Linked DNA regions of Homo sapiens. The protein of the gene in region 2 interacts with the protein of the main gene of each other region in a pairwise test. Each region holds a gene or a part of one and is shown on either strand. Other genes may lie near its edges.

Evidence for each region.
Region 1: the proteins of IPO8 (region 2) and WT1 interact in binary tests that used the Homo sapiens proteins (3 or more experiments, as listed by UniProt).
Region 3: the proteins of IPO8 (region 2) and ZNF331 interact in binary tests that used the Homo sapiens proteins (3 or more experiments, as listed by UniProt).
Region 4: the proteins of IPO8 (region 2) and ZFP2 interact in binary tests that used the Homo sapiens proteins (3 or more experiments, as listed by UniProt).

Annotation. Positions count from the first base shown.
Region 1 is NC_000011.10:32,432,530-32,440,072, forward strand, and holds the start of WT1 (Wilms tumor protein), read right to left. Parts: upstream 3,011-7,543; 5' UTR 2,832-3,010; coding exon 2,171-2,831; intron 1,512-2,170; exon of another isoform or gene 1,236-1,511; intron 1-1,235. UniProt on the Homo sapiens protein: Transcription factor that plays an important role in cellular development and cell survival. Recognizes and binds to the DNA sequence 5'-GCG(T/G)GGGCG-3'. Regulates the expression of numerous target genes, including EPO.
Region 2 is NC_000012.12:30,678,853-30,685,877, forward strand, and holds part of IPO8 (importin-8), read right to left. Parts: exon of another isoform or gene 6,948-7,025; intron 5,606-6,947; coding exon 5,449-5,605; intron 2,966-5,448; coding exon 2,807-2,965; intron 1,787-2,806; coding exon 1,630-1,786; intron 1-1,629. UniProt on the Homo sapiens protein: Involved in nuclear protein import, either by acting as autonomous nuclear transport receptor or as an adapter-like protein in association with the importin-beta subunit KPNB1.
Region 3 is NC_000019.10:53,569,145-53,576,169, reverse strand, and holds part of ZNF331 (zinc finger protein 331), read right to left. Parts: intron 6,867-7,025; 5' UTR 6,794-6,866; coding exon 6,785-6,793; intron 4,567-6,784; coding exon 4,440-4,566; intron 1-4,439. UniProt on the Homo sapiens protein: May be involved in transcriptional regulation. May play a role in spermatogenesis.
Region 4 is NC_000005.10:178,926,906-178,933,730, reverse strand, and holds the end of ZFP2 (zinc finger protein ZFP2), read right to left. Parts: intron 2,495-6,825; 5' UTR 2,418-2,494; coding exon 1,032-2,417; 3' UTR 519-1,031; downstream 1-518. UniProt on the Homo sapiens protein: Probable transcription factor involved in neuronal differentiation and/or phenotypic maintenance.

The DNA.
Region 1 (7,543 bases), on a different chromosome or scaffold from region 2:
AACCTGGAGATGGTGCTTCCAGGCTATATGACTTGAATCTAGGGCCCTCTCTCCATTGGGCTTTTTCTCCAGGGTGGAGAAGAAGGATACATTCACCTACTAGTCCTGGTCCCCTTTTAACTTTTTCTCCATGGCAGCCACGCCTGTATATTACAGAAGAATCCAGATATTTTCCAGAAGTGTAATGCCTGCTGGCTGCAAAACCCACAGTCCCACCCCCCACGACATGTGATAAGATCCCAGGCACCAGACCTGCCCTGAAAAGGGCTGGACAAGGGACCCAAACGAAGCGACAGAACCCAGGTTTCAAAAATCCCCTAGAAGTACTAAAAAGATAATGGCGTAGTAGTATTTTGTGCCCCAGGGGCATGGATTCGATGGTTTCTCAACCGCCTCCAAATAGCACACATGCAGACAGTGCTCTCGGATTCATTGTTTCTCAGTCACAGATGTTTAGATGGGTTGCCGAGTTCCATATTTAAAGCCCCAAGAGGGTGGTGGGTAGCGCTTCTGCATCTATGGAGTATAACTTCAAGCCGGACCCAATCTCCAGGTTGCCCATCTCAGCTGTCCTCTTATAGACGGGGACACTGAGACCTAGAAACTCCCCAAAAGTAACACCAGCCTGCTAAACAAAGGTGGCGCGATCTGATCAAAGAACACAAGCCTCAGCGACCAGTAAGTTGTCCCAACGCCCCTTGAGTACAAAACACTAATTTCACTAACTAAAAGCATAGAGTGGAGGCAACCCTTGGGTCTGCTTGCGGTTCCTCCACAGGACAGTGATCCCAGATTCTCCCGAAGAAAAGGGCGGTTTCGATTTCTCCAAGGCTTCGCGGGGGCCGGGTGCTCCTGGTTAGGCTAAGGTAGGAGCGGCCTGAAGACGCGCGTTTAGAAGGCGCGGGTGAAGGCGGGCAACAAGGGCAGAGCCCTTCTCCCGAGCCTTGGGCGAAGGTACCTCCTGCAAAAGATACACTCTGCTTCCCACGCATTCCAAAAACATCCCGGTCCCTAGGCCCTCGAGTAATTTTGCTCCAGGAAAAGCATCCGCCATTGTATTAGTAAAGCGTTTACTAAATTACCGAATCAAACCGAACTGGCTTAGGTTCTCAATAGCGTGGAAATCCACTGAAAATAAATGAAGAGGGCAAACTACAGGGGCTCCGCAGGTTCGGGTCCGCGCCGCCCAGGCGAAAGAGAGGTGGGCGGGCATCGGCGCGGGATGAGAAACCAACCTGATACTTATCGTGTGCCGAGTTCCCTCCTTGTATCCTGACTAAGCACAGCGAATAACCCTGTCCTTGTTCTAACCCCAGGTCTTGAAGAAATACTGTCCCAGCTGAGCCCCGCGTTTACAAGATGAAGAGGCGCCCCAGATGCGCTGAAAGAAAGGCCAAAGCTCGTGCCTCCTTCCACTGCCTGCGGTAGAACCTGGTCCCGCATAGCTTGGACTCGGATAAGTCAAGTTCTCTTCCATCCCCAGAACCTGCGTGGCCGCCGCCTGAGCGAAGCCCAGTGAAGATCCACTTCTGTATTACCATACGCGGGAGCTATCCACGGACACGACGCTGTTCCAGAAAGCCATTTAGTTACTGGAGGTGCATGTGCTCATTCTAGTTCTCTACGATACTTAATGTGCACCTAAGTGTGTGCCAACACCGTATTATAAGGGCTGGAGGTGCTCCTGGACATTTTAGCGCTGCGGAGGCAGCACAGCACAGGCGCTCACCCCCGCGCTGGTCCCACTCCGAATCCAGAGTCCAGACGTCTGAAAAGCGCTACGCTTGGTGACAATTTGGCGTTTCCTTAATTAACAAAACTCTCCCCAAGGCAGAGCCAGACACTGCGCCGGTCTCCTGGTTCCACTCCCGTGGGGACTAGCAGTCCCGGAATCTCTCGGACTCTAAGGGGCCCCAGACGCCCTCCCGGCTCTTGCGAACAGTCAGGCTCCTAGCTCTGCCTGGCTTTGGAGGATGTCGGGGGCCAGTGCCTGCGTGCACTCCCACTCTCCGGCCTCCTCCCCAGCCGCCGCTTCCGCTATCCTCACGGCCCTTGGGAAGCAGCTGGGTAAGAGCTGCGGTCAAAAGGGGTAGGAGAGGGGGGTGTCCTAGAGCGGAGAGTCCCTGGCGCCACTGCCCCGCGCGTAGGGGGCGCTCCCCGGCCTACTTACCCTGATTGCGAATAGCGGGCTGGCTCTCGAGGCAGCTGGGCAGGTAGGGCGCGTTAGGAAACATCCTGGCCTGGCCGGATGACGCCTGGCTGGGCGGAGGAGGACCGAAGGGCCCGTAGCGACAGGCTCCGGCTGTGCCAGTGAACTGGCCGGAAAAGTGGACAGTGAAGGCGCTCAGGCACTGCTCCTCGTGCGGCTCCGCGCCGCCCCAGCTCGGCTCCTGTTTGATGAAGGAGTGAGGCGGCGGCGGCGGGGGTGGCGGCGGAGCCGGTGGCGGCGCGGGGCCGCCCAACGACCCGTAAGCCGAAGCGCCCGGGGGCGCAAAGTCCAGCACCGGCGCCCACTGCGCCGCGCCGCTCACAGGCAGGGCACAGCCGCCGCCGCCACCCAGGGAGGGGACGGCGGGCAGCAGCGCGTTCAGGTCCCGCACGTCGGAGCCCATTTGCTGCGGCTCAGACCCGGACGCCCCGCGGCTCCTCCGGCCCTGGAGACGTTCAGCGCTGGCCTCGGCGGCGCCTAACTTGGCCCAGATGCCGCCCGGGTCCCGGACTCCCTGCTGCTCTGGCTGCTGTAGGCACCCAGGCCCGGAGCGGAGCGTGTGCTGAGACGCCGGCTCCGGGACACACGTGGAAGCCGGGTCCTGCAGCAAGAGGAAGTCCAGGATCGCGGCGAGGAGACGGCGGGGCCCGGGCGCCTGGGCTGCCGTCCCGGCTCTGGGTGGGTGGGTGGGTGAATGAGTAGGTGGGAGGGAGGGCGGGAAGTGGGGGAGCGGACAGGCGGTCGGGTTGCGGAGAGCCCCCGGGTGTGGGCGCTGCCTTGAACTCCTTACCCCAGCTGCCTGGCTGCCCTCAGCTTCCCAAAGCTCAAATAAGAGGGGCCGGCGGCGCGGGGAAGAGGAGGAGCCAGGAGGCTCGGCCGCTCCATTCACTCAGCAGCCCAAGCCCGGCCAGGCAGCGCGCGCTGCTCCTTGGGGGCGCCCTCGCAGCTGGGGTGAGGGCGGGTCCGAGGGAGCGTCCCTCTCGGAGACACCCTCCTCTTCAACCCAACACGCGCTCTCAGCTGGCCGGTGTGGCACAACCCTCCCCCCACCTCCCCTTCTTGGCCTTCGCCAGTGTGGGAGCCTCGTCTCACTGGAGAGTCCGTTCAGGTAAGCAGTGAGTCCGGGCAGGGTCGAATGCGGTGGGAGTAGAGATGGGGTTGTTAATCTAAAAGAGTGGTTTGGAGGGAGGGGCAGGTAGGCTCCAAGAGGGCGGGAACTTCAGGAAAGCGCAGAAAGAACTCAGTCAAGCTTCAAAGAAGCGTATACCCTTGCTTTGCACCCTTGAGTCTGGCTCTTGCTTCTAGAACTGTCGGGTAGGGGAGTGGCCATGATCTTGGGGTCACTGGGGAAAGAGGTGGCCCTTTGTGGGTTCCAGAGGTCGGGACTGAAAGCGAACGTCCCTCAGTTGGGTGGCCGGGAGTTGCACCAGTTATAAGCCGGGCGTATTTCGATCGGCTAGTAGTTGTTTACTTGGTGAGGTTTGCGCCAGGCGGAAGGCGGTTGCCGCCTACCTAAAATTGGAGTCAGCAGCACTTAGTTTCCCTTTCCAGTGAGGAATATCTAATTCTTCTACGGTTAAGCCGGGAAAACAGCGGCTAGTTTAGGAGGGAAGAAAACCCTTGGGCAAACGCCCAAAGCCTGCGTATATTCCGGCCGGAGCATCCTGGCGCCCAGTTTGGGGAGGAGGGGTGAAGGGGAGGGTTTGGATACGAAGCCCGGCAGGGAGCGGGTAACTCCTGGAGCCACTCCGCCGAGCACTGCCTGTGGCCCTGGTCGAGGATACCATTCTGGTTGCTCAGTGATTGACCAGGAGGCGGAAGCCAGTTAAGGGGACCAAGGAGTGGAGTAGGGAGAACCTCCATCGGCCCACGGGCGCGAGTTAGTGTTCGAATCTTTGGGAGCTCGAAGAGCTTCGCTAAATCTGACTCCCTTCGTCTAGTCTCTGTTTGGCAGCCCCCGCGCCCCAGAGCAGGTGTTTGGGGCGGGTAGGGGGTGTTTTGGTTTGGTTTTTGGATCTTCTAAAGGAGTCAGTATCTATTGGGAAACAACCCCTAGGCAAGGAGAAGAACCGGGGGCCGGAGCGGAGCGTGTTTCAGAGGTGCGTATAAAATCCCAGGGGCGCCAGGAGGCAGCAGCGACGGCGCAGCGTGGGACGGCCAGGCGCGACGGGAGGGAAGCAACCGGTTGCAGTCCGGCCTCCTGTACCTGGCTGGCCCGGGCTGGGGCTGCAAGCTTTCCAGCCAAACTTATGTGAAGCAAAGTAGTTGCAGTTTGACAAAGAATGGCGTTTCAATAAATGACATAGTAATTTTTTACGCTTTGGTTTTTAGCTTGCATTGCATAAACGTTGTCGCCATTAAATTCTGGCTGCGGACCCGAAGTGTGTGCGGGCCCAGGACTTACTCGAAGGGCGCACTTCTTGGGAATGCGCATCCCGTAGGCGCAGGAGACCCTGAGGGTAAAGATGCGGCACTTGAGCCCTCCGCTTGCCTCCCAGGCCACCTTTGCTGCTTGACTTTGCGTCGTCTCCACTCAGAAGCTTTTAAAATTATTATTAAGAAAAGAAAGATTCTACAAGACACTGCCCCCACGCTCTCTGCTCAGTCCTCTCCCACACGATCTATCCCTAAACCTTTCGCGGGGCTCGCGCGTTTGGTTTTTTGAGTGGAGAAAGGACTCTCGAGACAAAATTCACTGCCAGTTGCCCTAAGAACCCCCCAGATCCCTGTATCTCCCTTCCTTCTCCCCGCCTATTATTTCTACTTGGAAGTCGTTTTTCTTAACTAGGACTCAACTGTGAGGGGCGAGGAGCCCTTTATGAAAAGCCGGGGACTTTCATTTCCAAACGAAAAGATTGAGATTGTTTCTTCTTTTACCATCCTTGGCACTTTTAGCGGGGGGAGAGGAGGTTATCTGAAGGGAGGCTGGCTTGAATGTGAGTCGTTGTGTTTGTGAAACCCAGGTAAGGCAAAGACACGTAAATCTCTGCCAACATTTTTCAAAAATAAGTTTTTGCCCCGGGGTGAGGGATGTAGGGGTGGATAGGAGGAAAGGAGAGCCAAGCAAATGTAGAACTCCTCTCTCCTCTGCCATTTATTTTCTCAGAATCCTTGTGGGGGCGGGGAGGGGAAGAGCACCGGTGCGAACCCCGGGGTGCCCCCTCGCCCGACTTGGACTTCTCCGACTAAAGAGGTGGGAGGAGTTCCCTGCAGCCTGCGGGGCCAAGAAGAAAGTGCTAAGCTGAGGAGCCGCAGTCGGAGGACCCCAGGGACCCGACAGGAAGTCTCCGTACGACCCCAACGGATCCACATGCCCGGAAGCCCAGGCGACACTAAGCCAGCGCTGGGGAACTGACGTACTCCTGCAGTCGCAGGGCGCTCCATGCCTCTCTGTCCTCTTCTTTGTTGTGGGTAACGTTCTCTGCGGGAGACCTGAGGTTTTCCAAGGGGGACATGCCAGCTACACTGGCCTTGGCGCCCTGAGCTAAGCACCAGGACTCACAGCCTAGCACGAAGGCAGGTAGCACCTTCACCCGCCGCGGACGATAGGCGCTCTCCTGTACCTCCTTTAGCTCGCGAGGCCCGCCCTTCGCGAGGTCCCAGAGAAAAGCAGGCTGTGGAAAACTGGGCGCCCCCTTCTTTCACCCACCTTCTTACCCCTGTCAGCGCCGAGATCTGTAGCAGAGGTTCCTGGTCTGAACCACCGATTGGCAAAGAAAGCTGCAGATTAAACTTCTCGTTTTACAGAGAAGGAAACTGAGGCCCAGACAGCCGAAGGAGAGGCAGTCTATGGAGCGCAGCGGTAAAGAGCAAGGGGTTGGTGGCCCCAGAATGGAACCTCAGCTCTGCCAGGTAACCAACAGCTGTGTGACCCTAGACGAGTTCCGCAGTCTCTCTGAGCCTCAGTTTCCTTACTGGTCAAACGGGATAATGGGATACTAGCGCCCACCTCATAGAGTTGTTCTGAGGATTAGATAGGAGAGCAGTGTGGGCCTTTGACTCAATCAACTTTACAGTTTTTGTTACTACTACTGTTTAAGGACAGGAAACAAGTTAGTGGCAACGCCGAGCTGAAACCCGGGTCTCTCAACGTCCAGTTGGAGGTTTTACCCACCACCCCTCTACCTCTTCAGAGCTAATGGGATGCAGAGGCGAGGACAGCCCCTGGAAAACCATGTGGCGTTGATACACTGGCAAAGCGCAGGCATCCCGGCCTCGAAGGTGCATAATTATTGCAATATGAAAAAATCGAGGCTGGGTAGGAGCAGGGCAGTGAGGATTTCTCAACCCTTACTTTCACCCCGGCGCTGTCCACTGCATCTGACAGAGCGCGGAGCTGGGCTGCTACAGCCGCAACCCCAGGGACCAGTGCGCACGCCTGGGCCGCCCTCCGGGAGTCACCCAGCGGCCGCGGACAACTGAATAAACACCCCAAAGCGCTGCGGTCGGTCAAGGGCGGGGACAGCCACACTGCGCGCGGGGCCCGCAGGCCGTAATAAAGAGTGGCTCGACCTCGCTGCTGCCTGTCGCGGGAGAGGAACAAGCTTTCGACTAGCGCCTCTCCCCGGGGCCCGCGCCCCGAGCCCCACGCGCAAGACAGCCCAACAGCTGTTCCTCCCCTCCCCGCCGACTCCAACTCTTCGGAATCTGCCCACTCGGGGCTGCAGGGCAAGTGTTTAGGATGGTTCCCAGCCCCGCGCTGGCGGTGAAAATTTCAACGTCATTCCTTCAATTAAAAAAAGGGGGGGGCAAGGGAGGGGCTTTGTGATAACTACTCCCAGCTTCTTCTGATCATTTCAAAATTAAGTCGATTTTTTTTAACCAGTCCCCACTTACTGTCCTAACTCTCCTCGCTGACCCTATCTGGGAGCCCGGAACCGTTAGGTACTGCCGAATGCGGTGCAAAATTTCCCCCTCTCCCCCAGTTCGCAGTGCCTGGAGCCGCTGGGGTTACTCGTCTGTTCTGATGCCACCGCGAGATGGTCCCCGAGCTCCCCGAGAGTCCTCAGTGAAAGGATTCCGCGGCACTGCCTCTATTATTATACCGTAAATCTTTTTAAATTCTGGAACTAATTATATAGAGGATATGTCTCAATTTGTTCTGCATTAATGCCACAGTGGGGATGGAGGCCAGGCCGTGGCCAGAGCAGATACGTAGGCCCATGAAATTGATGAACTGAGAGTTGCTTCCAGTCCTGAGCGCACCATCTGGAATTCCAGTCTGAGGTTACAATTAGAACTCCTGACCCCAGATTCAACTTTGCAAACAACAGGGGAAAAAAATGGGGAAAAGAAAAACCACGAGAGAGGGAAAAAAAATTATTCTGCACCTGT
Region 2 (7,025 bases):
TATTTGAGGCGGAGTCTCGCTCTGTCACCCAGGCTGCAGTGCAATGGTGCAATCTCAGATCACTGCAACCTCCGCCTCCTGGGTTTGAGCAATTCTCTCACCTCAGCCTCTGGAATAGCTGGAATTAGAGGCACCCGCCATCATTTCTGGCTAATTTTTGTATTTTTCTAGAGATGGGGTTTCACCATGTTGGCCAGGCTGGTCTTGAACTCCAGACCTCAGGTGACCCACCCACCTTGGCCTCCCAACGTGCTGGGATTACAGACCTGACCCACTGCACCCGGCTGCTCATACTTTTAAAAACAAAATTGTCTGCTCCTTCTCATATTATCGCTTTTTACTTATGTCAGCATTGTAATAGTGGCTCCTAATGCCTTCTAAATTTCTACTTCCCAGAGGAGAATATTAATGTATTAGTACATAACAGATTACCAAAATGGTTAAAAATGTTGAGGTTTTCCAGGTTTTTAGCAAGTATAGACTGAGAAAAATATGAAGATTCTGTCGTCTTAGCAAACCAATTAGAGGTAGAGGCTTTAGAAAAATTATTTCATTAGCCTTTGTCTTACTTCCCAATTTCTAGCTGTTTCTGCCAATAGAAAAAGGAAGTCTGGCCTCTGAATATTATTTCAAAACAAGTGAGAGAACATATTTTCCTAGTATTCTAGTTTCTTCTCTTCTCACATTTGCCTCCTTCCCTCTTCTCTTTCCCTGCAAAAAGGCTGCTCTGGGGGAAAAAAAAAAATATCTGCCTCAGACTATCCCTATTAAAAGTTTAAAAGGGGAAGCTTTAATAAAAATATAAATCTTTATTAAAGTAAAATATTTTGAAATAGTTTAAGTATCTAAGTCAATAAAAAGCCAAGGATGGATCCAAACTATCATGGTTTTTGAGCTCAACAAAACCATCCTCTTCTCACGACAAATTCAACTAGAAAGCATGTAATAGAGTTTAATTCATTCATCAAACAGTTAAGACTGAAAACAATTATTCTTCCTCCAATCAGACCTAAATAATTTACCCAAATCTTTCAAGGATTTGATGTTAAATATTTTTATATTTCAAACATATTCCATCTCTATCTTCTCATTTCTTTCCGGATTCCCATGTTGGTATCCCTTATAGCATTCAGATTTTTTTTTTTTAGGCAGTATTTTAAACCAAGGAAAATGAACCCTAAATCCTCTGTTAGCTTTGAGTCAAATGCAAAGAAACTACCATCAATATGATTTCCCAATAGAAGAGGGACTCCCTTCTTCTTTTCCTTCTTCTTTTCCTTCTTCTTTTCCTTCTTCTTCTCTTGTAATCATAACTAATCTATAGGCAGGAATGCTACAGAACAGATAGTTGCGAGTAATCAGGTTTTAGAGCAGGTAGGTTTACCTACCCTGGTTCTGCTTTACCCATGATTTCAGACACTGGAGTGAAAAGCACTTAGGGGCAGATATGCCATTGAGACGATCTTGGGTAATTAATTTCTGTGAACCTGTTCCTCATAAGCATTTTTTAAAGAAATATATGGGATAATACAAAATAATTTTTAATAATAAGTGACACTTATTGAGCACTTTCCATGTGTCAGGCAGAAATACAGGACTCCATGTTTGTTTTCTGCAATAGAAACCTACCTGAACAAGTGCATAAAAGATTTTCAGAATTTGTTTCTGCAGTAATACAGAATAATAGGAGGAATCAGGAAGGAGCTGAACAATTTGTTGCTGAATACGAGGCAGGAATATCTGCATTGCTATTATAAGAGGTTCTCTCTCTTCTGCTTTCTTATATCTACATGAGCAAAGACAAAAACAGAAAAGTAATTTTTCCCACCCAAAGAACCATCAACAATAAATTATAAAATATTTTTTAAATACATAAAACTAACAAAACAAAGTCATTAACATTGGCTTCTAGTTTGTTTGAATTGCTAGAATTAAGTTGAAAAGAAATTTAAAATAACACATCCTGTTTTAGGCACAACACCTAAAATCTTTCTGGAAAGATTTAGACTAGTTTAAAACAACCCGAGACCATTTTGCAGTTTTCCTACATGAATGTTTCTAGTATTTAAATTAATTTTCATCCAGCCAAAATTCTTACTATAAAATATAAGTTGCTATGCTATTTTAAATAGACTATATAACAAATAATATGGGGGGAATTTTCTTATTATATTTCTCCCTGAATTGAGTAGTTAAAATAGTTTAAAATTTAGGTGCTCTTAGATTGCTTTAATTGCCATAAATCTAAAATATGTTCTATAAATTTCATAAGCAGAGTAGGAACTAGTCAGTTTAAAAGGAGAACTACAGGACTTCATATACACATGTAGCAATCTTCCTAGAAACCAGAAAGCAATACTATTAAGTGTGATATTAGTCCTCTACCTACCCAAGCTACTTTTATGGAAAAGAATGTCATTAGCAAAGAAACGTTAACATTTTCTATCTTGCATCCAAAAAAGTAAATGTTTTGGTTTACTTAATATACTCCCTAGAAGACAAATATAAAGGTATCTCTATATCAGAGTTTCCAAGGAAAGCTGTTAATAAATGGTACTGTGCAACTAACAAGTTTGAGAAGTGCTTCATATTATATCACTGTCTCAGAGGTTAGCAATATCCATCAGCACATTAAAGTTTCTTTCAATAACTGCAGCAAATAAACACATTTAAGCATGTTTAACCCAACATTTCCCAAACTAATCTGATAACCTGTGCAGAACATCCACAACAGACCACTCTTTGCAACTTCATTATTTCTAAGTTACACAAGGCTGCTTTCTTCAGCCAATGGAAACCAACTTACTCATATGTCTTCACCAGTTGATACAGGCATAATAAACTGCCAAGCCAGCTTGCACTGCTCTGTGATTGCAAGTAATAGTCTATCTTGTCGACCACTCCTGGCCAGTGACCAGGAAAATCATGTTTTATGATGGCACGGAGACACATTGTTAATTGGACTCTACAAAGTAGGGAAGAAAAGTCCAAAATCTAAGTAATTATAAATACTGTGTTTCAAAGACCTCTAATATTTTACATAAAAGTTTGTTATCTTCTATTTACGTGTATTATATACTTACATATGTGGGGTAGGGGAAAAAGACATATCTAAAAAACATCCTCAGTGGCTCAACTTGTTGAAAATAAACAGAATGGGTGAGTTTCTAAAATGAATGAAACCTTTCAAACTATCTTATCCTAAATACAGTTTAAAAAAATTGTTTTAAATAGTTTAAAATTTTCAAAAAACTCCAATGAATCTACCTCCACTCTGTAAAATTTCCAGCTTATTATATCTCATATTTTGGTTACCATATCCTGAATGGGGGAAAAAATAACACTTCAAACAGATAAACCTAGTCTAAAGATGGTACAAGTAAGTACAAAGAAGGCCTACATAATGGTGGGAAGCTTCTCTATGGGCCAAAACCTTGAACTCATCCATTATCAATTAAAACCCAACATCGTATGTTGAATCTATCCAAAGCAGTCTGAGATACTAATTTTTGTACCCCAAGTATAAGAAAGAAACATGTATTATTAGCGAGGCAATTCCTGAAGAGGAGAGCTAAGAGCTATTTCCAAAGAAATAAATGAAAAAGGCAACAGAAGAGACATAAAACAGAAAAAGAAAATATTCCTTTAATAAAACCACAAAGTTAAATGCTAAAATAAGTTATCTGATAACATAGATAAGTAATCATTTCCTCAATGAGATTTCAACTTTAACTGGAACTGAAAAGAAAATAGGGGGAAAAATTTCTTTTCTATAAACTATCAATTCAATGTTATCACCAAATATGACCTTACATGACATTTTCAAATGGTTAGAAAACAAACTTGGCAAAATTAGGATTCCACAGGGCAACTAAAAAAAAAATAAAGCATTTTCAGTTGAACAACCAGTAACTCAGATTCACTTAAACTGGTAAAATTAAACAAAATGATGCCTTTTCTTCACGTTATCAAATCTATTTGAAAAATCCCTTTGTAATACTCTTAAACTTTGAGAATAGGTGGAAGAAATTTCAACAATGATTATAATTAAGCCTTAAGGACATAAAAGGAGCAAAGCCACAGAGAACCGTCCCGTAATAAAGATAAAAGATCTCCTTTAGTGCCAGTAGTAGCTGCTCCTTTAAACAATAAATGTCATATTTGTAAAAAATAAAACTGAAGCTTTTCATTTTTTAAAATTTCATCTTCAGGTTGATTCTCCCAGTCCTTTCTCATTCCAAGCAAAGGATGGTTATGAAAGGCCATCCTTCATGCATTACTGTGTAGAACCACTCGAAGATTAAGGGAGATCTGAAAATTTAAGATTTTGAAAATAAATGGATACATGATGGTACCACAGGGGTATCAGTCCCATGACTGGCATTTGGGCAACCAATAAGAATAATAGTGATTTTTTCTTTTTAACCAGTACACCTATTTTCTCCTCTTAACAAATTAATTGCTCTAAGAGTTCAATGTTTGTTCTCCTTCCTGTTACCCGTCGTACTTCCTTCCTTTTCCACTGCTTATGTCATGATGGCTATTAGATACTAAGGGCTAACGTTATATTCAACCTCTTGATATTAAAAAATTTCATTCCTCTACCTCTGTTTTCACCTATTTGTCCCTCCCATTTTCAAAAGATACCTAATTACTATCTTGTATGTTGAAAAGAATTTGTTTCTCCTATTTTAAGATTGCAAAATTTTTATGACTTTACAGCTGCTCTGTCCAATAGAGCAGCTGCTAGTTAAATATGCACACTTTAAATGAATCAAAAGTAAATAGAATTAAAAATTCAGTTCCTCAGTTACAACTAGCAACATTTCAAGTGCTCAACAGTCATTGATGCCTTGTGGCTAATATTAGATAGCACTGACACAGAACACTGTCACTGCAGAAAGTTCTGAGGGACACTACTGCTCTACAGCATCTAATCTATGACTGTAAAAAACTGGAGACAGTTCTTCTAGTTTATACCTACTCTATCCTGTCTTCTCTGAAGGAAAACATGCTCAATTCATAAATGTGAATAAAAATACAGGGAAAGATTAAGACAGGTAGTAGGTAAAAATTCCCAGAATCAGTCTCTCTGTATCAAAGAAAAGAAAAGCAGGTAGTAAAAAAACTCAAGAGATCATTACTAAGAATAAAGGTCATTTAAGTAGCAAGACTTACACAATTGTTTTGGTTAAGTATCATTTTTTTTAAATCTTACCTCTTTTTGTGGCAACATACGACAACAAAATCTTTTCCAAAATATCTTGAGGCAAAGAATTACAAATGCAAAGACCACTAAGTAAAATAATATTCTTTGAGTGTCCCTCTTTATTACTTTACCTCTTTAGAAAATGAAACATGAGGCCAAGGATTAGATCCAACAGCACCCACCCTCAGATCTAACCATTTCATGCTTTCTAGTAATCACAAATATATAGCACCACATACCTCACTAAATCTGGAGACCGAATTATTCCTTCCACAATGTTATCACGTATTTGCTGGCGATCGTTTTCGTGAATGTTGAATGGAAATATTGCTTCTCCTGGTGGAGGTTCTCGATCTGGCCAGTATTGTGTCACCATGTTCTTCAGGTAAATGGCAGCTGAGTTTGAGAAAAAATGCTAATGTAGCAGTACCAAAAAGGATGGCTTTAATTCAGCCTTACAGAGCATGAAAGTCCAAACCCTTCAATGTTAAACATGAAACCCAGCAAAAATGGATACTCTTACAGGTATAAACAGCCAAATCAGGAAGGGAAAGTGGATAAGAATTTAAAGGTTTCACTTCAGCTAGTCTAAGCAGAAAACATTTCATTAAGTCAAGACCCAGAGCTTACAGGACAGGAAAATTATCTAGAAATAATGCATAGTAAACATACTTTGAGATCATAAAATCATACTTTTCGCAATGCCTAATTCTGAGGTGACAACAGGTAAAGTTCTACTTTCCTTCATGAAGATGGCTTTTTTTGTTTTTTGTTTTCCCACTGGCTACTGTCAAACACTAGCATTTTGGGGTATCTCTTCTTTTTATAGTATTGGTAATTTTCATCCAACCTTTTTGAAATATGTACTACTTGTAAATATAATAGGGAAATGAACATCAGCCATCAAAAATTTTTGGAAAAAAGCTCAGAAAATTTTTATATGTTCACATCTATCAAAATACATAATCTGATTTTGTTCTGTTCTTTTTAATCGTCTTCAACCTTTAACAAAAGGCTTCTGAAAGAAACAGGCTGACATATTGCTACAGCATTTTAAGAAAGAATGTGAAGCTTTTCTTTTCTTTTTTTTTTTTTTGAGACGGAATCTTTCTCTGTCATCCAGGCTAGAGTGCAGTGGCAAGATCTTGGCTCACTGCAACCTCTGTCTCCCGGGTTCAAACGATTATCCTGCCTCAGCCTCCCAAATACCTGGGATTACAGGCATGTGCCACCACACCCAGCTAATTTTTGTATTTTTAGTTAGACAAGATTTCACCATGTTGGCCAGGTTGGTCTCGAACACCTGACCTCAGGTGATCTGCCTGCCTCGGCCTCCCAAAGTGCTAGGATTACAGGTGTGAGCCACTGCACCTGGCCAGAATGTAAAGCTTTCTAACCATCCCAGTTGAACAGTGAATGTAAGTAAATACTTATAATGTTGTGTGTGTGTGTGTGTGTGTGTGTGTGTAAAGAATACAGATACGTGATTTGCAAAGCAGCATAACTTTCTTCCCTTAAGCTTCTCTTCTTTCCCCACCCAACTCTTTCTTCACCCAACTTTTAACATATAACTAAATTCATGACCCGGAGCAGTGACTCACACCTGTAATCCCAGCACTTTGGGAGGCCGAGGCGGGCGGATCACCTGAGGTCAGGAGTTCGAGACCACCCTGGCCAACATGGTGAAACCCCGTCTCTACTAAAAATACCAAAATTAGCCAAGCATGGTGGCAGGTACCTGTAATTCCAGCAAATTCCTTGAACCCAGGAGGCGGAGGTTGCAGTGAGCTGAGATCATGCCACAGCACTGCAGCCA
Region 3 (7,025 bases), on a different chromosome or scaffold from region 2:
TCTACTAAAAATACAAAATTAGCCGGACATGGTGGCGCATGACTGTAATCCCAGCTACTCGGGAGGCTGAGGCAGGGAAATTGCTTGAACCTGGGAAGCAGAGGTTGCAGTGAGCCGAGATCATGCCATTGCACTGTAGCCTGGGCAACAAGCATGAAACTCTGTCTCAAAACAAAAACAAAAAAACAGACTGGGCACGGTGGCTCACGCTTGTAATCCCAGCACTTTGGGAGGCCGAGGTGGGCAGATCATGAAGTCAGGAGTTCGAGACCAGCCTGGCCAACACGGTGAAATCCTGTCTCTACTAAAAATACAAACATTAGCTGGGCATGGTGGTGGGTGCCTGTAATCCCAGCTACTCCGGAGGCTGAGGCAGGAGAATCGCTTGAACCCGGGAGGCAGAAGTTGCGGTGAGCCGAGATTGTGCCACTGCACTCCAGCCTGGGTGACAGAGCTAGACTCCATATCAAAAAAACAAAAAACAAAAAACAAAAACAAACAAACCCTGTCTGTACTAAAAACGCAAAAATTAGCCAGGCATGGTGGTGTGAGCCTATAATCCCAGCTACTTGGGAGGCTGAGGCAGGAGAATCGCTTGAACCCGGGAGGTGGAGGTTGCAGTGAGCCGACTGAATAAGACTCCGTCTCAAAAAAAAAAAAAAAAAAAAAAGCAACTGGGTAAAAGAATACAACATTCAAAAGCAACAAAAAAGATAATTTACGAGACTAAATTTAATAAAAAATGTGAAAAAGTTTAGAAGAACAATAAGGAAAAGTTTAGAACTTGAGCATCAATAAGGAGGCTAACTGCAAAGGACTGAGAAACAGCAAACGTTTAAATCTATAAGTTCATAATGATACTACAAAATGTTAAATGGCCAGCTCTGGAACACGCTAGGAAACCAGACCTTTATTATAAAAACTGGCAATTGGCTAGGTGCAGTGGCTCACGCCTGTAATCCCAGCACTTTGGGAGACCGAGGTGGGTGGATTACTTGAGCTCAGGAGTTCAAAACCAGCCTGGGAAACATAGCAAAACCCTGTCTCTACAAAAAAAATACAAAAATTAGCCAGGTGTGGTGGTGTACACCTATAGTCCCAGCTACTTGGGAGGCTGAGGTGGGAGGATGGCTTGAGCCCGGAAGTCAAGGCTGCAGTGAGCCCAGACTGCACTACTGCACTCCAGCCTGGGAATCAGAGTAAGACCCTGCCTCAAAAAAAAAAAAAAAAAAGAAAAGAAAAAAATACAACATAAAAACTGACAAAGAAAAAGAACAAAGTTTTTATCCTTCTTATCCAATATGAACAGTGCCACTGCATGAGCAATTAGCAGATGAAACAAAGTTTCTCTTTAAATTATAACAGCTGATAAATGAAGGGGCAGTGATAGGCGCGCACCATTTGAGCCCCCAGTGTGATGAATGTAAGCAGTGCCAATGACTGCCAATGGCAAAGAGGAGCTACAACCAGACACCAGGTGCTTCATGGTGGTGACACATTAACAACACCCGGGAAGCAGTACTGCCAACACCTAGATATGAGAAAAAGAAAACGGGCACTTAAAGCGAGGCTAACCCACTTTCAGGAATGATAAAGGGCAGAGGACCCTGTCACCTCTACCCGCTACTAAAGGCGTGGCCCACAGACCAGCAGCACCAGCAGCACATAAAATGGGGTTAAATATGACAGGAAAAACAAGGTGACAGGGAAATGGGGTGAAGATCAAGTTCGTGGTAAGATCTTTCTTTCCTAGAGGCTTTGGGCCTGAGCTCTTGGAGAAAGCTCTCCAACACCTCAGGGTGTGCCTGTTCCCTGCCCTGTGGGGATGCTCTTTGTACGGGTGGCTGACTGGCTCCCACTTTCCTCCGTATTGTTGTCTTGTCTCTTCCCTCACAACCATCAAGGCTCTTTCCCTTAATTCTATAAGACAGTACCTCTGGCTTAGAAATTATATGCCCTCCTTTAAAAAAACGAAATGCTAGAGGACATAGAACTTGAGGAAAAATTTCAAGCTCAAAACTTCAAAAATTCTTTAAAAATTATTTTTATTTTTTGAGAGGGAGTCTTGCTCTGTTGCCCAGGCTGGAGTGCAGTGGCATGATCTTGACTCACTGCAGCCTCTGCCTCCCAGGTCCCAGCAATTCTCCTGCCTCACTCAGTCTCCTGGGTAGCTGGGATTACAGGCGCACACCAGCACACCGGCTAATTTTTGTGTTTTTAGTAGAGACGGGTTTTCACCATGTTGGCCAGGCTGGTCTTGAAGTCCTGACTTCAGGTGATCTGCCCGCCTTGGACTCCCAAAGTGCTGGGATTATAGGCGTGAACCACCATGCCTGGCCTTAAATTTTTTTTGATTGAGTATTAATCAAATTTATAACAACCAGAAGTCAAAATGCTATTGAGCCAGGTGCAGTGGCTCACGCCTGTAATCCAGCCTCTTTGGAAGGCTGAGGTGGGTGGATTCCTTTAGCCCAGGAGTTCAAGATCAGCTTGGACAACATGGCGAAATCCCATCTCTAAGAAAAAACACAACAATTAGCCGGGTGTCGTGGTGTGCACCTGTGGTCCCTGCTACTCAGGGAGATGAGGCAGGAAGATTGCTTGAGCCCAGGAGGTTGAGGCTGCTGTGAGCTGTGATCGCGCCACTGCACTCCAGCCTGAGTAACAGAGTGAAAAAAAGAAAAAAATCTCAACTTAAAAAAAAAAAGAAATGCTATACCTCTACCTCCCGGGTTCAAGTGATTCTCCTGCCTCAGCCTCCCAAGTAGCTGGAATTACAGGCATGCGCCACCACACCCGGCAAATTTTTGTATTTTCAGGAGAGATGGGGTTTCACTCTGTTGGCCAAGCTGGTCTCGAACTCCTATCTTCGTGATCCGTCTGCCTTGGCCTGCCAGTCTTGTGATCACAGGAGTGAGCCACCGCACCCGGCCTTATTTTTTATTATTTTTGAGACAGAGTCTCGCTTTGTTGCCCAGGCTGCAGCACAGTAGCGTGATCTTGGCTCACTGCAACCTCTGCTTCCCAGGTTCAAATGATTCTCCTGCACCAGCCTCCGGAGTAGCTGAGATCACAGGCGTGCGCCACCATGCCCGGCTAATTTTTATATTTTTAGTAGAGACAGGGTTTCACCATGTTGGCCAGGCTGGTCTCTAACTCCTGACCTCCAGTGATCCGCCCACCTCAGCCTCCCAAAGTGCTGGGATTACAGGCGTGAGCCACTGCGCCTGGCCGAGAAAAGGTCATATTTTAAATTTCTGTAGGCATTATGCCTGGAGGCAAGTGGAACATGGTGGCTGGCAGCAAGGAATCTGGGGACCAAAACTGTTAAATCTGATTCTAGCTCCTGCTCCCTCCGTCTGACTGCATCACTGTGTTTCAGTATCCTCATCTCCAAAATAGACAATGATTGTGCCTGTCTCATCTGCCTGTGAGAACGAAATGCAATGTACTTACACACACAGTGCTTAGCACAGTGCATGGCACACAGTAAGCAGTTTATATATATAATATATACTATATATGTATATATTGTATATGTATATATGTGTATATATAATATATATGTGTATATATAATATATATGTGTATATATAATATATATGTGTGTGTATATATAATATATATGTGTGTGTATATATATAAAATATATATATTCCTATTTGTTTATTGTTTTAGCGATGGGGTCTTGATCTGTTACCCAGCCTGGAGTACAGTGGTATGATCATAGCTAACTATAGCCTTCAACTCCTGGGCTCAAGTGATCCTCCTGCCTCAGTCTCCCGAGTAGCTGGGATTACAGGCAGGGTCACCACAGACAGCTTAGCCATTAATATCATTGTTGTTATTTTTGCTAGAAGAAAAATAAGTTTCCAGGGATGTTTGCAAGATATTGTCATTCAATGTTTAACTCACAGTTCGGGGATTGTAACTTTCAACCTCACTTCAGGTATGGTATGTAAGAAATGAAATACGCCCACTTTGGTTTTACACAAATTCTGTTTGTCTGATCTACTGTACTTCAAACACATAGGCTGGTTTACTAGAACAATTCAGGGCACTGTGTCCACATGTTTTCCCTAGACGTGGGTCCCTAGAGTAACACCGACCACCAATAGCAATTTGGGTATAAACATACTCTCACAGGACAAACTGGCTCCTTTGAAGATGGTCATGAAATAAATATCCCAGAATTCCCACTCATTCCACGGACATTAAGGAAGTGAGATGATTACGGGGGAGTCGACAAAGGTGGGAAGGTAACCGATGGATGGGAGGGGAAGGTTGTGGTGCTCACGGCCACATCAATAAGGCTCAATACATTCCTTGGGGACAGGAAGAAGAAATTCAACTAGTTTCTTGAAAGGCGGTCCTGAAATTCACAGGGGAGAGCGGATATTCCAGGAGGCAGTCTAAGTTATCTGAGGCGTGCAACTCACCCAGTGAGACCAAGTTACTGTAGTTCTCCAGCATCACGTCCCAGTACAGGTCCCTCTGAGCAGAGTTCAGACAGGCCCACTCCTCCTGAGAAAAGTCTATGGCTACGTCGGCGAACGTCACCAAACCCTGAAACAGAAACCCACACGTGCATGATGAAATGAAAGGAAACAGCTTCCAGATGAAGGAGACAGGAGGCCACCCTCTGGGTAGGGTGAACACCGTGAGCAGACTGAACACCCGTGACATCGGCAAGGGGCGGTAAGGACATCACTGTAACTGTGACGGAAGCAGAATGCCTGCATGTCACTGAAGAGCTCTACCGCTGCAGAGAAAATGACTTTACTGTGCAGAATCCTCAGTTAGTCAAACCTGCCAGGAAGTGGATAAAACAATCCAAGTTTTCTTCTTGCTTACAAGCAGTGTCTGCTACGTGCCTGCCTTATAAGTTCTCAACAAGTGTGGATTCCTACAGCATTTTTTCTTTTAAGGGGGGAAGAAAAATCAAGATTTCTGTTTAAGAACTTTTATTTTAGAAAATAGGGTTTGCTGGGGCTGGGCGGGGGGCTCACGCCTGTAATCCCAACACTTTGGGAGGCCAAGGCAGGCGGATCACGAGAACAAGGCAGGCGGATCACGAGGTCAGGAGATCGAGACCATCCTGGCAAACATGGTGAAACCCCATCTCTACTAAAAATACAAAAAAATTAGCCGGGCGTGATGGTGGGCGCCTGTAGTCCCAGCTACTCGGGAGGCTGAGGCAGGAGAATGGCATGAACCCGGGGTGGTCAGAGCTTGCAGTGAGCGGAGATTGTGGCACTGCACTCCAGCCTGGGCGACAGAGCGAGACTCTGTCTCAAAAAAAAAAAGAAAAGAAAAGAAAAGAAAAGAAGATAGGGTTTGCTGGGTGTGGTGGCTCATGCCTGTAATCCCAGCACTTTGGGAGGCTGAGGCAGGCGGATCACCTGAGGTTGGGGGTTCGAGACCAGGTTGACCAACATGCAGAAACCTCGTCTCTACTTAAAATACAAAATTAGCTGGGTGTGGCGGCGCATCCCTGTAATCCCAGCTACTCAGGAGGCTGAGGCAGGAGAATTACTTGAACCCGCGAGGCAGAGGTTGAGGTGAGCCAAGATGGCACCACTGCACTCCAGCCTGGGCAACAAGAGTGAAACTCCGTCCCAAGAAAAAAAAAAAGAAAATACGGTTTGCATGTTTGAATGTTTTCAAGCCTCCAGTTCATCATGCCAAACTACATTTTAAGCAGTCTTCCTTTTAAGCATTTAAAAAATTCCCACACAGGTAAGTCAGACTGTTTATTACAGTTATTCACTTAGGTTGCCCAAAACACCTAAGGCTTTCTCCGATTCTGGGGTATGTGATCATCTCCTACTTCCATACTGGAAGATCTTCATATTTATTACCATCCATAACCCTGCCTTTCCCCCGTTCCTGATTTTTTTTTTTTTTTTTTTTTGAGACAGAGTCTTGCTCTGTTGCCCAGGCTGGAGTGCAGTGGCATGATCTTGGCTCACTGCAACCTCCATCTCCTGGGTTCAAGCAATTCTCCTGCCTCAGCCTACCAAGTAGCTGGGATTATGGACACATGCCACCATAGCCTGCTAATTTTGGTATTTTTAGTACAGATGAGGTTTTACCATGTTGGTCAGGTTGGTTTTGAACTCCTGACCACAAGTGATCCACCCACCTGGGCCTCCCAAAGTGCTGGGATTACAGGTGTGAGCCACCACACCCGGCCCCCTGTTTCTGATTTAGAGGATAAGGATGTCAGATGACTTAGAATCATCTTGTGGTCTGAGAGATCCATTCAATAATAAAATTTATCCTCCAGTTTCCCGGCAGGAACATGACCTCTGTTCAAAGGTCCTAATCACAGCCCCATCCCTTTCCAAAAGTCCCATAAAGCTTGGGATCTGAGCACATACTAAGACAGACCGGCGAATATGAGCATTCCCTCTTATCTACGCAGAAAACATGATCAGTGGAGGATCTGTTTCTCATGTGGTCAGATGGGACCAACATATCTAACTCATCAAACCACAGACTTGACTTAAATATTTCCCTCAAAGGACTTTGCTACTTCACTGCTCCAAAATTACCCTTGCCAAAAAAGGGAGCAAACAGGAGATACTTAATCACCTGCTCAGTGATTTCCCAAAAAGGCAGACACGGAGCTACGTGGCATTATCATTCACTGGAATAGAAAGAGCTGGGAAACAGGTAATTATAAAGAGCTTGACTAGATAAAAGGCTTCAGATAATTCACAAGCAGATGCACAGAACGCAAATATCATAGCTCAAGAAGGAAAGAGAAATATACACTTACCTGGGCCATTGTTTTAGAACTGAAGAACTGATCAGTCTTCTCGGGGTTTCCACTGAAGAAGACAAATTCCGAGAGGCTAGAGCTAGGGGTGGAAAAAAAGAGATTAAAACGAGGTGCATCTGGGGTCCCCATAGTGATGTAATATGACCTTTTGGCTCCTCTGTCTTGGCTTCCCAACACAAACACATAACCGTGACATATCTGGGAAAGGTGAAGAGTATCATGGATCAGGCCAGGTGCG
Region 4 (6,825 bases), on a different chromosome or scaffold from region 2:
CCGGGCACGGGGGCTCATGCCTGTAATCCCAGCACTTTGGGAGGCCGAGGTGGGTGGATCACGAGGTCAGGAGATTGAGACCATCCTGGCTAACATGGTGAAACCCCATCTCTATTAAAAATACAAAAAAATTAGCCAGGCATGGTGGCAGGCGCCTGTAGTCCCAGCTACTTGGGATGCTGAGGCAGGAGAATGGCATGAACCCAGGAGGTGGAGCTTGCAGTGAGCTGAGATCAAGCCACTGCACTCCAGCCTGGGCAAAAGAGCGAAACTCCATCTCAAAATAAATAAATAAATAAATAAATGAAAACATTTGCATACTTATTCCATTAATTTATGGAAACCAGCCTGTAGTTAGGGGACAAAATAACAATGCAGGGGAAGATTAGGGGCATGGAAGGGTACTAGGAATTCGTAAAGGTAAATCATTTTGACTAAAAGGATCCAAGGAAACCAGATTGTGGAACAAGAGCATCTAGACTGCATACAGACAGCATAAGATCGTAAAAGAACAAAGATTTCCCAGCATTCATTATATTTATAGAGTTGTAGCATTTTAGAGCTAACAGAGCTCCTACAAGATTTCTAACTCCAAAATCATTCATTTACCAAATAAAGAACCATAACCTGGTGGAAGTAGGCAAGTTGTCCAAGGCAGTGGCAGATTAGGACTACATACCAGGTCTCTGGGCTGTCCAGTTAAACACTCTCACATTTTTCTCTCCAGTGTAAAGTCTCTGATAGCCAAAGGAGAATGTGCGGTATGATATAACAGAACTTATCTTCAGCATGACTCTTCATTGTTTATATTAGCTATTTAAACCTTCTGATATAAAGGAAATTATACATTCTGAATCAAGATTTCTCTACTTTTAGATGGATTCTCTGCAGTGGTATTATCTGATATGACATATTGTACTTCAACTGAAAGATTCCCACAATCATTACATTTATTAGGTTTCTACATTGTATGTCTCATATGATTATTACTGAAGAGTTAATCATGAGGTAAGGGCCAGTGAAAACATTCCTCACGTATGAGTTCTTTGATGTCGTGTAAGGTTTGTACTCCGGCTGAAGGCTTTTCCGCATTCATTACACTGATAGGGTTTCTCTCCTGTATGAGTTCTCTGATGCACTGTAAGGGATGAATTCTTAATGAAGGCTTTTCCACACTGATCACATTCATAGGGTTTCTCACCAGTATGAATTCTTTGATGTTCAATAAGGTAAGCACTCTGGCTGAATGCCTTTCCACATTCATTGCACTCATAAGGTTTCTCTCCAGTGTGAATGACCTGATGCACGGTAAGGGATGATCGTCCAGTGAAATGTTTTCCACACACCATACACTCATAAGGTTTCTCTCCAGTGTGAATTCTCCGATGTTGAGTTAGAGATGAATTCTTACTGAAAGCTTTTCCACACTCGTTACATTCAAAAGGTTTTACTCCAGAATGAAGTCTCTGATGTTCTATAAGATATGTACTTTGGCTAAAGGATTTCCCGCATTTGTTACATTTGTAAGGTTTTTCTCCAGTGTGATTTCGCTGATGTAGGGTAAGAGTTGAGCTCTTACTAAAGGCTTTTCCACATTGACTACACTCATAGGGTTTTTCTCCAGTATGGCTTCTCTGATGTACAATAAGATGCATGCTTTGACTGAAGGCTTTTCCACATTCATTACATTCATAGGGTTTTTCTCCTGTATGAGTTCTCTGATGAACTGTCAAATTCATGCTTTGGGTAAAAGCTTTACCACATTCATTACATTTGTAGGGTTTCTCTCCAGTATGAATCCTTTCATGCTGAATAAGAGATGAATTCTTATGGAAGGCTTTGCCACACTCTTTACACTGATAGGGTTTCTCTCCGGTGTGAGTTCGTTGATGGACAGTAAGATTCATGCTCTGACTAAAGGCTTTCCCACATTCATTACATTTATAGGGTTTCTCTCCAGTATGAATTCTTTGATGTACAGTAAGGGAGGATCGTTCAATGAAGTGTTTCCCACATACATTACACTTATAGGGTTTCTCCCCAGTATGAATCCTCTGGTGCTTAAGAAGGGATGAGCTCTGACTGAAGGTTTTGCTGCACTGATTACATTCATAGATCTTCTTTCCTACAAACATTCTTTGAGTTTTAATTAACTCAGAATTTTGTGTGGCATCTTCTCCATGTGAATTACAGTTATGGGGCCTTTTTACCATAGGAATGCTTTGCTGTGTATCAAGGATTGAATCCTGACTGGAACATCTTTCAAATTCATTACCTCCACATACTCTCATCTCAGTGAAGGTTTCCTTATGGGTAACTCCCACTTGGCTCAGATGACTATCCTGTTGTCCCTCTAACCAATTATTAGGTTCCCAGGTTTCCCCTAGAGTAGAATGCCAGATACCTTCCCTTTCCATTGTTACCCCATGGCATAAATCTTCAGTAATACCCGGCTTCGGAGTTGGCTCTTTGGTTTCAAGTCTTGTCTCCCAGTCTGAAAAAAAAAAAAAATTCAAATGCACATTGGTTTCTGTGCTAGGAGACTGGAAACTGCATAAGGTAGGAATGAGAGAATTAAACTAGCTATCAACTAAAATAACTGCTGAGCACATTTGAGAGCTTTCAAACATGTACCCAAAATTAGGTAGAGAAATAGGAAGGGAGAGAAACAACAGTGAACTGATCCAAAGATAACAGGGGAACTGAAAGCAGGGGATGGCAGATGTACTGCATAAGCAGAGAAAAGAGTGAGCCCATTCAGGAGGGATGGACAGTGAAGGCACTGACCACTGGAGTAGGCTACATAATGAAGATGGAACTAAGGAAACACATGCAGAAGAGCTGGGATTGGGAAAGGCAGATCAGGAAACCCTGCACACTGTACCTGGTATTCCTGCCAGAAGTTTCTTTCCTCCTACGAGGCCACCTAGAATCCTACACCAAATTAATCTTCCTAAAATGTCACAGTGTGACACAATGTAAAGATTGCTGACTCAAAGTCAGACAAACTTGGATTCAAACCGTGGCTCTTAACACCATCTTAACTAGTTACTTGTCTCACTGGCTCTGAGGGTCACAGATATAAAATGAGGATTAAGAAATATGGTCAAGCCCGGGTGTGGTGGCTCATGGCCGTAATCTCAGCACTTTGAGAGGCCAAGGCAGGCGGATCACTTGAGGTCAGGAGTTCAAGACCAGCCTGGCCAAAATGGTGGAATCCCATCTCTACTAAATACACAAAAATTAGCTGGGCATGGTGGCAGGCGCCTGTAGTCTTAGCTACTTGGGAGGCTGGGATGGGAGAGTTGCTTGAACCCAGGAGGTGGAGGTTGCAGTGAGCTGAGGTAGTACCACTGCACTCCAGCCTGGGTGACAGAGTGAGACTCTGTCTCAAAAAAAAAAAAAAAAAAAAAAAAGGAAAGGGAAAAAAAAAGAAAGAAATATGATATAGGAAGTAAATAAAATGAAATATGATAGGAAGTAAGTAACATAATCTAGGTGGTATAGTTTGGATGTGTGTCCCCACCCAAATTTCATATTGAAATGTAATCCCCAGTGTTGGAGGTGGGGCCTTATGGGAGATGATTGGATCATGGGAGTGGTTTCTTATGAATGGTTTAACACCATCCCCCTTGGTACTGTCCTCCCTATCATGAGTGAGTTCTTGTGAGATGTGGTTATTTACAAGTGTGTAACACCTCCCTCCTCACTCTTGCTCTTGCCATTTGATGTGCCTGCTCCCCTCTCACCTACTGCCATGACTGTAAGCCTCCTGAGCCCCCCCCCCCACCGTCAAGCAGATGCTGGCACTATGCCTCTTGTACAGGAACTGTGAGCCAATTACACCTCTTTTCTTATAAATCACCCAGTCTGAGGTATTTCTTCATAACAATGTGAGAATTGAGTAATACAGAAAATTGGTACGGGGAAGTGGAGAATTTCTATAAAGATACCTGAAAATGTGGAGGTGACTTTGGAATAACTGGGTAACAGGCAAAGGATGGAAGAGTTTGGAAGACCCAGAAGAAGATAGGAAGATAAGAGAGAGTTTGGAACATCTTAGAAACTGGTTAAATGGTTATGACCAAAATGCTGATAGTGATATGGACAGTGAAGTCTTGGTTAAGGTCTCAGATGGAAATGAGGAACTTACTGGGAACTGCAGCAAAGGTCATTTTTGCTATGCTTTAGCAAAGACCTTGGCTGTACTGTGCCCCTGCCCTAGGGATCTGTGGAACTTTGAACTTGAGAGAATGGTGATTGAGGGCATCTGGTGGACGAAATTTCTAAGCAGCAAAGCACACAAGAGGTGGGTTGTCTGCTAACAATCTATGCTCAGATGTGAGAACAAAGAAATGACTTAAAACTGGAACTGGTATTTAAAAGGGAGTAAGTGGAACATTTGCAGCCTGGCCATGTGGTAGAAAAGAAAAGCCCATTTTCAGGGAAGGAATTCAAGCAGGCTGCAGAAATTTGCATGAGTAAAAAGGACCCAAGTACTAGTAAGCCAAGACAATGGGGAAAAGGCCTCAAAGGCATTTCAGAGACCTTCACAGCAGCCCCTTCCACCAGAGGCCTAGGATGACTGAATGGTTTCCTGGGCCAGGCCCAGGGCCCGGTGCCCTGCACAGCCTTGGGACACTGCTCCCTGCATCCCAGCTACTCCAGATCCACCCACGGCTGAAAGGGGCCAGGTTACAGCTCAGGCTGCTGCTTCAGAGGGTGCAAGCTGTAAGCCTTGGCAGCTTTGATATGGTATATAAAGCCTGTGGGTATACACAGTTGAACAGTTAAGGCTTGGGAAACTCTATCTAGATTTCAGAGGATGTATAGAAAAGCCTAGGTGTCCAGGTAGAAGCCTGCTGCAGGGGCAGAGGCCACACAGAGAACCTATACTAGGGCAGTGCAGAGGAGAAATGTGGCATTGGAGCCGCCATGTAGAATCCCCACTGGGGCACTGCCTGTGAGAAGAGGGCCACTGCCCTCCAGACTCCAGAATGTAAGATGCACTGGCAGTTTGCACCCTGCATGTGGAAAAGCCAGAGACATTCAACTACAACCCATGAGAGCACTGCAGGGACTGAACACTGCAAAGCCATGTGGGCAGATCTGCCCAAGGCCTAGGGACTCCACCCCTCGCAGCAGAGTGCCCTGGATATGAGATACAGAGTCAAAGAAAATAATTTTGAAGCTTTAAGATTTAATGACTGCCCTGATGGTTTCTGGACTTTCATGGGGCCTATAGCCCCTTTCTTTTGGCAGAGAGTTCTCCCTTTTGGAACAGGAGTGTTGACCCAATGCCTATACCCCCAGTATATCTTGGAGGTAACTAACTTGTCTTTTATTTTATAGGCTCATAGGTAGAAGGGACTTGCCTTGTCTAAGATGAGACTGTGGACTTTTGAGTTAATGTTGGAACGAGTTAAGACTTTAGGGATTAGTGGAAAGGCAAGATTGTATTTTGAAATGTGAGAAAGACATAAGATTGGGAGGGGCCAGGGGCAGAATGATATGATTTCATTTGGATGTGTGTCCCCACCCAAATCTCATATTGAAATGTAATCCCCAGTGTTGGAGGTTGGGCCTTATGGGAGGTGACTGGATCATGGGAGTGGTTTCTTATGAATGGTTTAGCACCCTCCCTCTTGGTACTGTCCTCCCTATCATGAGTGAGTTCTCATGAGATCTGGCCACTTAAAAGTGTGTAGCACCTCCCCCTGCCACTCTCTCTTGCTCCTGGTTTTATCATTTGATATGCCTGCTCCCCTTTTGCCCTCCACTATGACTGTAAGCCTCCTGAGGCTTCCCTACAAGCAGATGCTGGCACTAATGCTTCCCGTACAGCCTGTAGAACCATAAGCCAATTAAACTTTTCTTATAAATTACCCAGACTCAGCCAGGCTTGGTGGCTCACGGCTGTAATCCCAGCGCTTTGGGAGGCTGAGGTGGGCAGAATCACCCGAGGTCAGGAGTTCGAGACTAGCCTGGCCAACATAGCAAAACCCCATCTCTACTAAAACACACACACACACACACACACACACACACACACACACACACACACACATTGGCCAGGTATGATGGTGTGCACCTGTAATCCCAGCTACTGAGGAGGCTGAGGCAGGAGAATCACTTGAACCCGGGAGGTGGAGGTTGCAGTGAGCTGAGATTGTGCCATCACACTCCAGCCTGGGCGACAAGAGCGAAACTCCGTCTCAAAAAAAAAAAACCCCAAAAATAAATAAATGAATAAATTACCTAGTCTCAGGTGTTTCTTTATAGCAATGTGAGAACAGACTAACACAGTATGTAAACTACCCTTTGAGAATATACTCCTCTGGAACATAAAGTACCAGAACATACATGAAACTTAAACTCTTAAAGGAGGATGACACAATCTAGAGGTTTCTTCCCCTTAAACTTTAAGCAGGCTGTAATTTATTCACAGGGGTAAGACAGTCCTAAGGGATACTACCATTTCCTAAATACGCATTCCTTAAAGATGAGAACTGGTGGTAGGGACAGGCCAGGGGATCTGCTAAACTGTTTGAGAGGAGGCTGGAAAAGGACCTTGTAGCTACTCAGACTTGAATTTTCTTAGATCCTATTTCTTATCCCAGACAAAATAAGGGGTAGAGGACTGGCACTGCAACCTGAGAATCAGCTTTCCGATTGCTGATCGAAGTCAACAGAGAGAGATCAACACTGAACAAACAAACCAAGGCCTATGGGCACAGGCTTTCCTGTGAAGCAAGAAATAAGCATTAACCAGGCCTCTTTCTTCCAACCTGATCTGCTTAAGTGAAAAGAGAGAAAAAGTGGAAA